2 linked regions of the Homo sapiens genome follow. The gene in region 1 interacts genetically with each later gene. Each region holds a gene or a part of one and is shown in the gene's direction. Other genes may lie near its edges.

Region 1 (3,821 bases):
GTAATTGTGTGCATGAAAATTTTGACCGTGCTCCATCACATGAGATCAAGTGTAAATTTTCCATTTGTGTGTCATATCAGTGTTCAAAAAGTTTTGGATTTTCAAGCATTTCAGATTTTAGATTTTCAGATTAGTAATGCTAAACCTGTATTTAAATAATATTAAAAATACTCGAGTCTGAATTTAGAGAGTTTTCATGTAAGTATGTACATTTATAAGGAAGATTTTGCCATGCTTGAGCAACACCTCATCTGATTTGAAGTTGGTAGCCAATATGTTTAGGTAACTCAAAGTTTGAAACAGTAATTTTTAAAATTAAAATAATTATAGGTATGCATTTAAATTAAATTTTTTGTGCCTTACCCAACACAGGGGACTCAATAGCATTTCATACTAGGAACATTCAAAGGAATAAAGTTAGCTGGAGAAGGGGGTCATGTTCTTTAGAAAGGACTTCATATGTCAGTGTCTACAGAAACAGTGAAAAAAGGAAAAAGAAGTAAAGAAAAATAGAAAAAATAAAAGTTTTCATATGGAAGAGGGCTTACATTTGTTTTTAATGACTCTTAGAGATACAACAAGGTAGCGACAATAGTAAGACAGAGACAGACTTTGGTTTACTGAGAACTTTTTTTTTTTTTTTTTTAAAGTCTCACTCTGTTGCCCAGGCTGGAGTGCAGTGGAGCGATCTTGGCTCACTGCAACCTCCGCCTCCCAGGCTCAAGTTATTCTTCCCGAGTAGCCAGGATTACAGGCATGCACCACTACCGCCTGGCTAATTTTTGTATATTTAGTAGAGACAAGGTTTTGCCATGTTGGCCAGGCTGGTCTCGAACTCCTAACCTCAGGTGATCCACCCGCCTCGGCCTCCCGAAGTGCTGGGATTACAGTTGTGAGCCACCATGTCCAGCCCTCCCAAGGGGAACTTTGTGAGAGAGCCATCATAAGATGCAATGAGCTACTTCAGTAGGTAGAAAACATTCCATCCATCGGCCACTTAGTGAAGATAGGCAAAAAAAATATACTCCTTGAATAGGTAGTTAAATTCCATGGCCTTTGGAACCTCCTTTCAGCCCAAGTTACTGTGATTCTGTGAATACATGCAGCTGTTCTCTAAACTGCTCACAGCTTTTCCTTCATATTATGATAAAAGAGTTTTCACACAAGAGGATGAATGGAAAGTGAAAGAAAAAAACTTGGTTGTGAGATGAGTAAAAGACAAAAAGTAGCTGGTAAGCTCTTCTCTTCTTTACAATTATTTCCATTATTATAATTTATCTGGATTTTCTAGTTCTGGCTTTAAGAGCAACATCAGAATAGCAGTTAATCTCTTTCCTACACAATTGATTTTAGAAATGCTGTTGGCTTAAGATAATTAAGTTTTCTTTTGAACCAGCAACATGGCTGAATTAGCTACAGCTTTATGGCTGTTGCTGCTTAAAGATTTAATAACTAACAATAAATACAACCCGTTTTGACTTTCTTATTTTGCCAGTATCTATTAGAATGAATTTGCCCAGAAGGAAATGATAGGCATAAATTCAGTGGAAGTTGATTTATGGGATTCTTTCTGTGGTTCCGTGACTTAGAATCCAAACAGGGTTGCATTCTGGATTCACACAGAAGCCTTTGATCTTTAGTGCTGATTACTTTGATGCCAGGATAAGTAGCCACATACAACTGTCCAAACAAGTATACTTGAAGAATTCTATATTACCGTTGTTTCTTGGTGCTTTCTAAACAAGTACCATCAGTGAAGAAGATTTTGAATACAGATGAGCCGTGAAATTTTGCGGAGCTGCTAGAAAAGAATTTTTATTGAATTGAAATTCATTTTCCCTCACCAACATGGAATTCATACTTGAAATTGATGTTATCACCGTTATTTAATCAAATAGAGAGCCTCTTTTTAATCCATTGCTTGATTTTTTTTATAGGCTAGCTTCTGAGCATTTAATACCCAAATATATGCTTCCTTTGGCTTTTTTTTTTTTTTCTTCGAGTCAGGGTCTTGCTTTGTTGTCCAGGCTGGAGTGCAGTGGTATGATCATGGCTCACTGCAGCCTTGGCCTCCTGCGTTCAAGTGACCCTCCCACCTCAGCCTCCTGAATAGCTGGGACTACAGGCGCATGGCACCATGCCCAGCTAATTTTTGCATTTTTTTTGTAGAGATGGGATTTCACTGTGTTGTCCAGGTTGGTCTTGAACTCCTGGGCTCAGGCAATCCATTCACCTTGGCCTCCCAAAGTGTTGGATTATAGGCATGAGCCACTGTGCCCTGCCTTCCCTTGGCTTTTTAACCTTCCCCTAGAGGTTACCTCTAAGTAGCACTGAGGGGAAAGTAGCTGCTAATTTTATGTAGCTTGTAGTACTGAAATCCCTCTGGAGAAGTGATCACCTAGACTCCAGTAGAAGGATATTACTGTTGTATACTATTCAAAACAGTTTAACTATAGAAGTGTCAAAGTAGATTTCAGTAAGCATAGACATCGCAAAGCCTAAGCTTCAGGCATAAAGGCTTAATACTGCCTCAAAGAATAATTATTTCAGTGCTGGGAAGGTGATAAGAGACACATATTCACTGGACCATTCATTTATCCTTCAGCAGTTTAAAGAAGCAAGGAGGCTGGGAGCACTTTGGGAGGCAAAGGCAGGCGGATTGCCCGAGCTCAGGAGTTCGATACCACCCTGGGCAACATGATGAAACCCCGTCTCTACTAAAAATACAAAAAATTAGCCAGGCATGGTGGTGGGTGCCTGTAGTCCCAGCTACTCGGGAGACTGAGGCACAAGAATCGCTTGAACCCGGGAGTCGGAGGTTGCAGTGAGCCAAGATCGCACCACTGCACTCCAGTCTGGGCGACAGAGTGAGACTCTGTCTCAAAAAAAAAATAATAATAATAATTAAAAAATAAGCAAGGAGAGTTGTAGAGATTTGGTGTCCTATTTTAGTATTACGTATTGTTAGCATTGGAATGAATTTTTAACCTTTGGAGCCAGACAGACATGGATTTGAATTCCAGGGCCATTACTTAGTACCTGTGTAATAGCCTCGACTATTTAACCTCTGAGGTTCAGTTTTTTCCTAAGGATTTTTGGATGGATCAGGGAGAATTTGTGTAAAGTGTCTGGCAAATAGTGGGCTCTCCATAAGCATCTATAAATAATGTTGATATTAACAATAATAAAATGAGGAAAGATTTTTTTCTTAGAATTTTAAATTCATGGTTTCCCAATTTCTATTAATATATACAGCTTATATTTAATTTGGCAGAGTTTGTACAAGTAAAGTCAGATCTATACTCTTTAGGATGTGTATCCTACTCACAATTTGACATAATTGATGATAACACAACTTCCTTAATTTTAACTTTTTAGTGATTTTTTAATAATTGAAACCTTCCGTAAATGATTAGGTTGAGAAATAATGAGTCAGTTTGCAAAGTGACTTGCACAAAAGATGAGCACAAATACTGGGGAAGAGAAAAAAAACAGTTGCTTTAGAAAAGTTAGAGATCTGAAATCAAATTTCAGAGATTCATGGGTGATTTTGATATTGAATTACTAATGGTTGCTTTTTTACATTTTAAAATTTCGGCTGTCTTATTTGGATTTCATGATAGTTTTATTGTCAGAACTATGTCTAGCTTTGTAATAAAATGGTTCTGAAAAGTCATGTAACAAAAATTTCTAATTTAGCCAAGCAGTGTTGCATTCCTGTAGTCCCAGTTTCTCTGGAGGCTGGGGCAGGAGGATCTGTTGAGCCCAGGAATTCGAGTCCAGCTTGGGCAAATAGCAAGACCCCCAATAAAAATTAAAAA
Region 2 (3,821 bases), on another chromosome or scaffold:
CCAGATTTTTTGTTGTTTTCCTCCTAGTTTTTTATTCATGTCATCCTCACTTACTTTGACTATTGTTTGTTTCACTGGATTGCTGTTAATTGTTCTTTCTAAAACATTACCTTAGTTTTCTTTCACAGAAACAGTGCTATTCTTTTTGTGTTCATTTTTTATTGGTATATATAATACTTAACGTGTTCACTCAGCAAACACACGAGTGCTTTACTATATGCCAAGCATGATTCTAAATGCTGGGGATATACTAGTGAAGAAAGCAAAGTGCCTGCCCTCCCGGAGCTGGGAAGACAGACAGAAATAAATATACAATATCAAACTAGTTAGCGATGACTGTGAGAACGAAGAGTAAACTGGGACAAGATCCGGTGATTGCAGAAGGCTTCTGAGGAGGCGACACTGCACAGAGACCTAAGTGAAGTGAGGAGCCCTTGCCTCTGAGGAGACAACACTTCTGGTGGCCAGAAATTCAGTATAACCAGGTTCAGAACAAACACAACTGACTCTGGGTTAGCATAAAACTCAACCAGCAGGAGCAGAAGTCCCCAGGCAGACGCGAGCAGAGCCTGCTGGCAACCGTGAGCATTGGTCAGCGTGGACATTGGACAAGGGGCTTCCTTGCTCAGCCCTCATTCCTCTAACATGGTTCTCTCCTGTGTTCTGCATGTAGGCCTTTGAGGATTGGAATAAGACAGAGCTAGACTCATTCCTGATTGAAATCACAGCCAATATTCTCAAGTTCCAAGACACCGATGGCAAACACCTGCTGCCAAAGATCAGGGACAGCGCGGGGCAGAAGGGCACAGGGAAGTGGACCGCCATCTCCGCCCTGGAATACGGCGTACCCGTCACCCTCATTGGTAATGTTATGCTTTTCACATGGGCCCTTTCGTCCACTATTCTGATCTTGATGTCTGGAGGACAGATACAGACTGGTCTTTAGAGAATCTCTTCAGCCCTCTTTAGCTTTCAGAGTGCCTTTTGCTCTTTCTTGCGTTGAAGAAACTGACAGTGTGAGAGAGGCTGACGCTGCTTTTGATTCTCTTCCTTGTAGTTCTTATCTCATTCGTACAAACTGTGAGGTAAATTCAGAAGTGACTGTCCTTCCTATCCAGTTTTATCTTTGGAATATTTTAGCATTAGTGATGTAATTGTAGTCAGTGATCTAAGATTTTATTTATGAGGCAGGTAACTTGAGTAAAATTTTTCATAGAAAAGTTCATGAATAACAGGGCCGGGCACAGTGGTTCACGCCTGTAATGCCAGCACTTTGGGAGGCCGAGGCGGGTGGATCATGAGGTCAGGAGATTGAGACCATCCTGGCTAACATGATGAAACCCTGTTTCTACTAAAAATACAAAAAATTAGCCAGGTGTGGTGGCACGTGCCTGTAGTCCCAGCCACTCAGGAGGCTGAGGCAGGAGAATTGCTTGAACCTGGGAGGCAGAGTTTGCAGTGAGCTGAGATGGCACCACTGCACTCCAGCCTGGGTGACAGAGCGAGACTTCGTCTCAAAAAAAAAAAAAAATTAGCAGGTGCCTGTAATCCCAGCTACTCAGGAGGTTGAGCCATGAGAATCGCTTGAACCCAGGAGGCAGAGGTTGCAGTGAGCCAAGATCATGCCACTGCACTCCAGCCTGGGCAACAGAATGAGACTCCATCCCCTCCAAAAAAAGTTTGCGAATAACATATGCTTGTGTACTCAGAAATTATTAAAAATTTACTTTTTTCCCCTAGATATTAAAAAGATAAAAATTACCTATCCATTTGAGTCCTCGTTGTTTTGCTAAGTTCCTTCTCCTTCCTCTTTTAGAAGAAAGCCACTATCCTGAAGTTGGTGTGTATCCTGCCCACTTGTTTTATATCTTACATTAGTGAGCTAAGCATCAAACTCAGAAAGATAAGGAAATAATATAAAGAAATAAACATAAAACGAGAGGGGATTAACAATATCAAAATCTTGGCCGGGGGGGTGGTTTTCAGTGTGTTTGTTTGTTTTTTGAGACGGTGTTGTGCTCTGTCACCCAGGCTGGAGTTCAGTGGCATGATCTCGGGTCACTGCAACCTCCACCTCCCGGGTTCAAGTGATTCTCCTGCCTCAGCCTCCCGAGTAGCTGGGATTACAGGCATGCGCTACCATGCCTGGCTAATTTTTGTGTGTTATTAGTGGAGACGGGGTTTTACCATATTGGTCAGGCTGGTCTCGAACTCCTAACCTCAGGGGATCTGCCCGCCTCGGCTTCCAAAAGTGCTGGGATTGCAGGCGTGAGCCACCATGCCCAGCAAAGGTGGTTCTAAGAGTAAAATACATAGACTTCTGGCAGGAATGAAAAAGGAGAACGAAGGATGCCTCTCGTGGTTAATGAGAGGCTGATCTTTGCTTCTGGCAGATTGTTCTCACTATATTAAAACAGAATTGGGCCAGGCGCGGTGGCTCACGCCTGTAATCCCAGCACTTTGGGTGACCGAGGTGGGCGGATCACGAGGTCAGGAGTTTGAGTCCAGCCTGACCAACATGGCGAAACCCCATCTCTACTAAAAATACGAAAGTTAGCCAGGCATAGTGACCCGTGCCTGTAATCCCAGCTACTCAGGAGGCTGAGGCAGGAGAATCACTTGAACCTGGGAGGCGGAATTTGCAGTGGGCTGAGATCGCACCACTGCACTCCAGGCTGGGCGACCGAGCAAGACTCCGCCTAAAAAAAAAAAAAGAAGCATCTCAAAAATAATAAAACAGAATTTTTCCTGTTTGCTCCTCTGGATACAGGTTGCCTTTCTCTCCCTTGACTCTTCTCCCCTTTTGACCTCCCTGTTCATTGTGCCTCGCCCTATTGAACTGTGTGGTGTAAGGCAGAGTAAGGAGGAAAGTCGGTGGTTTCTACAGTTCCGTGCTGTATAGAAGGAAGTTGGCTGCTTTTAGCCGATCTGAGCCATAACATAGGTGAGGAGGGAGGGGCCAATAGCTAGGAGCAATTTATTCATCACGGACTCAAGTATATGTGTAAGTATTAGGATCTCAGAATCCTACTCTCCTCCTGTGGATCCATATACCTCTTCCCCCAGGGTGGCTGGGCCCACCCCCTGCTGGGAGCCATCATTATTTGTGAACTAACAGGGAAGTCTTCCAGCTGCCCTCTCCCCCTCTAACAGGAAGGGTTTGCCTCATAGCCTGTTGCACCAGTCATCTTACAAAGCTTCCTTCTAGAAATGCTAAGTCATCCTGTGTGTGCATTTGGGCCAGGAGAGAGGTAGCTGCTTTTGTGTGTTTGGAGTAGGGTTAGCAGTCTCAAGCCATAGCTGCTCCTCTTTCCTCAGAAATAAAGTCCTCTGTTAGTTCCCTGAGATTTTACTTCATTTTGTCTATGGGGGAAAAAGTGGTTAAAGAGTCATTTATTCTAACTATAAGTTGTCAGTTGAGCAAGTCTTTTATAAGGAATACTTTCTGAAAATACTAAATGTCTTAATATTAAAATACTACATTGACTTTTTAATTCAAATGAAGTAAAGTGGTTAAACTTGAATGATTACGGCTATACTGAAAACCGTAAAATATAAAAACCTAACATTTTTTTGAGAGGTGAGTCCGTAAATGTGACTTATCAATGTAAAATCTTCAAAAAAAAAAATTAAGGTCCTCTAAATTGAATTTGAAATTTTACTCATGGACCAACACTGAGTATTCTACATAACAGTGGTTTTTATTTTATTTTACTGGTTTTAGAGACAGGGTCTCACTGTGTTGCCCAGGCTGGAGAGCAGTGGTGTGATCATGGCTCACTGTAGCCTTGAACTCCTGGGCTCAAGTGATCCTCCCACCT

What was found.
Region 2: changes in MRPS35 (region 1) and PGD together harm fitness more than expected from each alone (negative genetic interaction), as found in Homo sapiens cells (one large-scale study listed by BioGRID).

What each region holds. Positions count from the first base shown.
Region 1 is NC_000012.12:27,738,286-27,742,106, forward strand, and holds part of MRPS35 (small ribosomal subunit protein mS35 isoform 1 precursor), read left to right. Parts: intron 1-3,821.
Region 2 is NC_000001.11:10,412,389-10,416,209, forward strand, and holds part of PGD (6-phosphogluconate dehydrogenase, decarboxylating), read left to right. Parts: intron 1-673; coding exon 674-863; intron 864-3,821. UniProt on the Homo sapiens protein: Catalyzes the oxidative decarboxylation of 6-phosphogluconate to ribulose 5-phosphate and CO(2), with concomitant reduction of NADP to NADPH.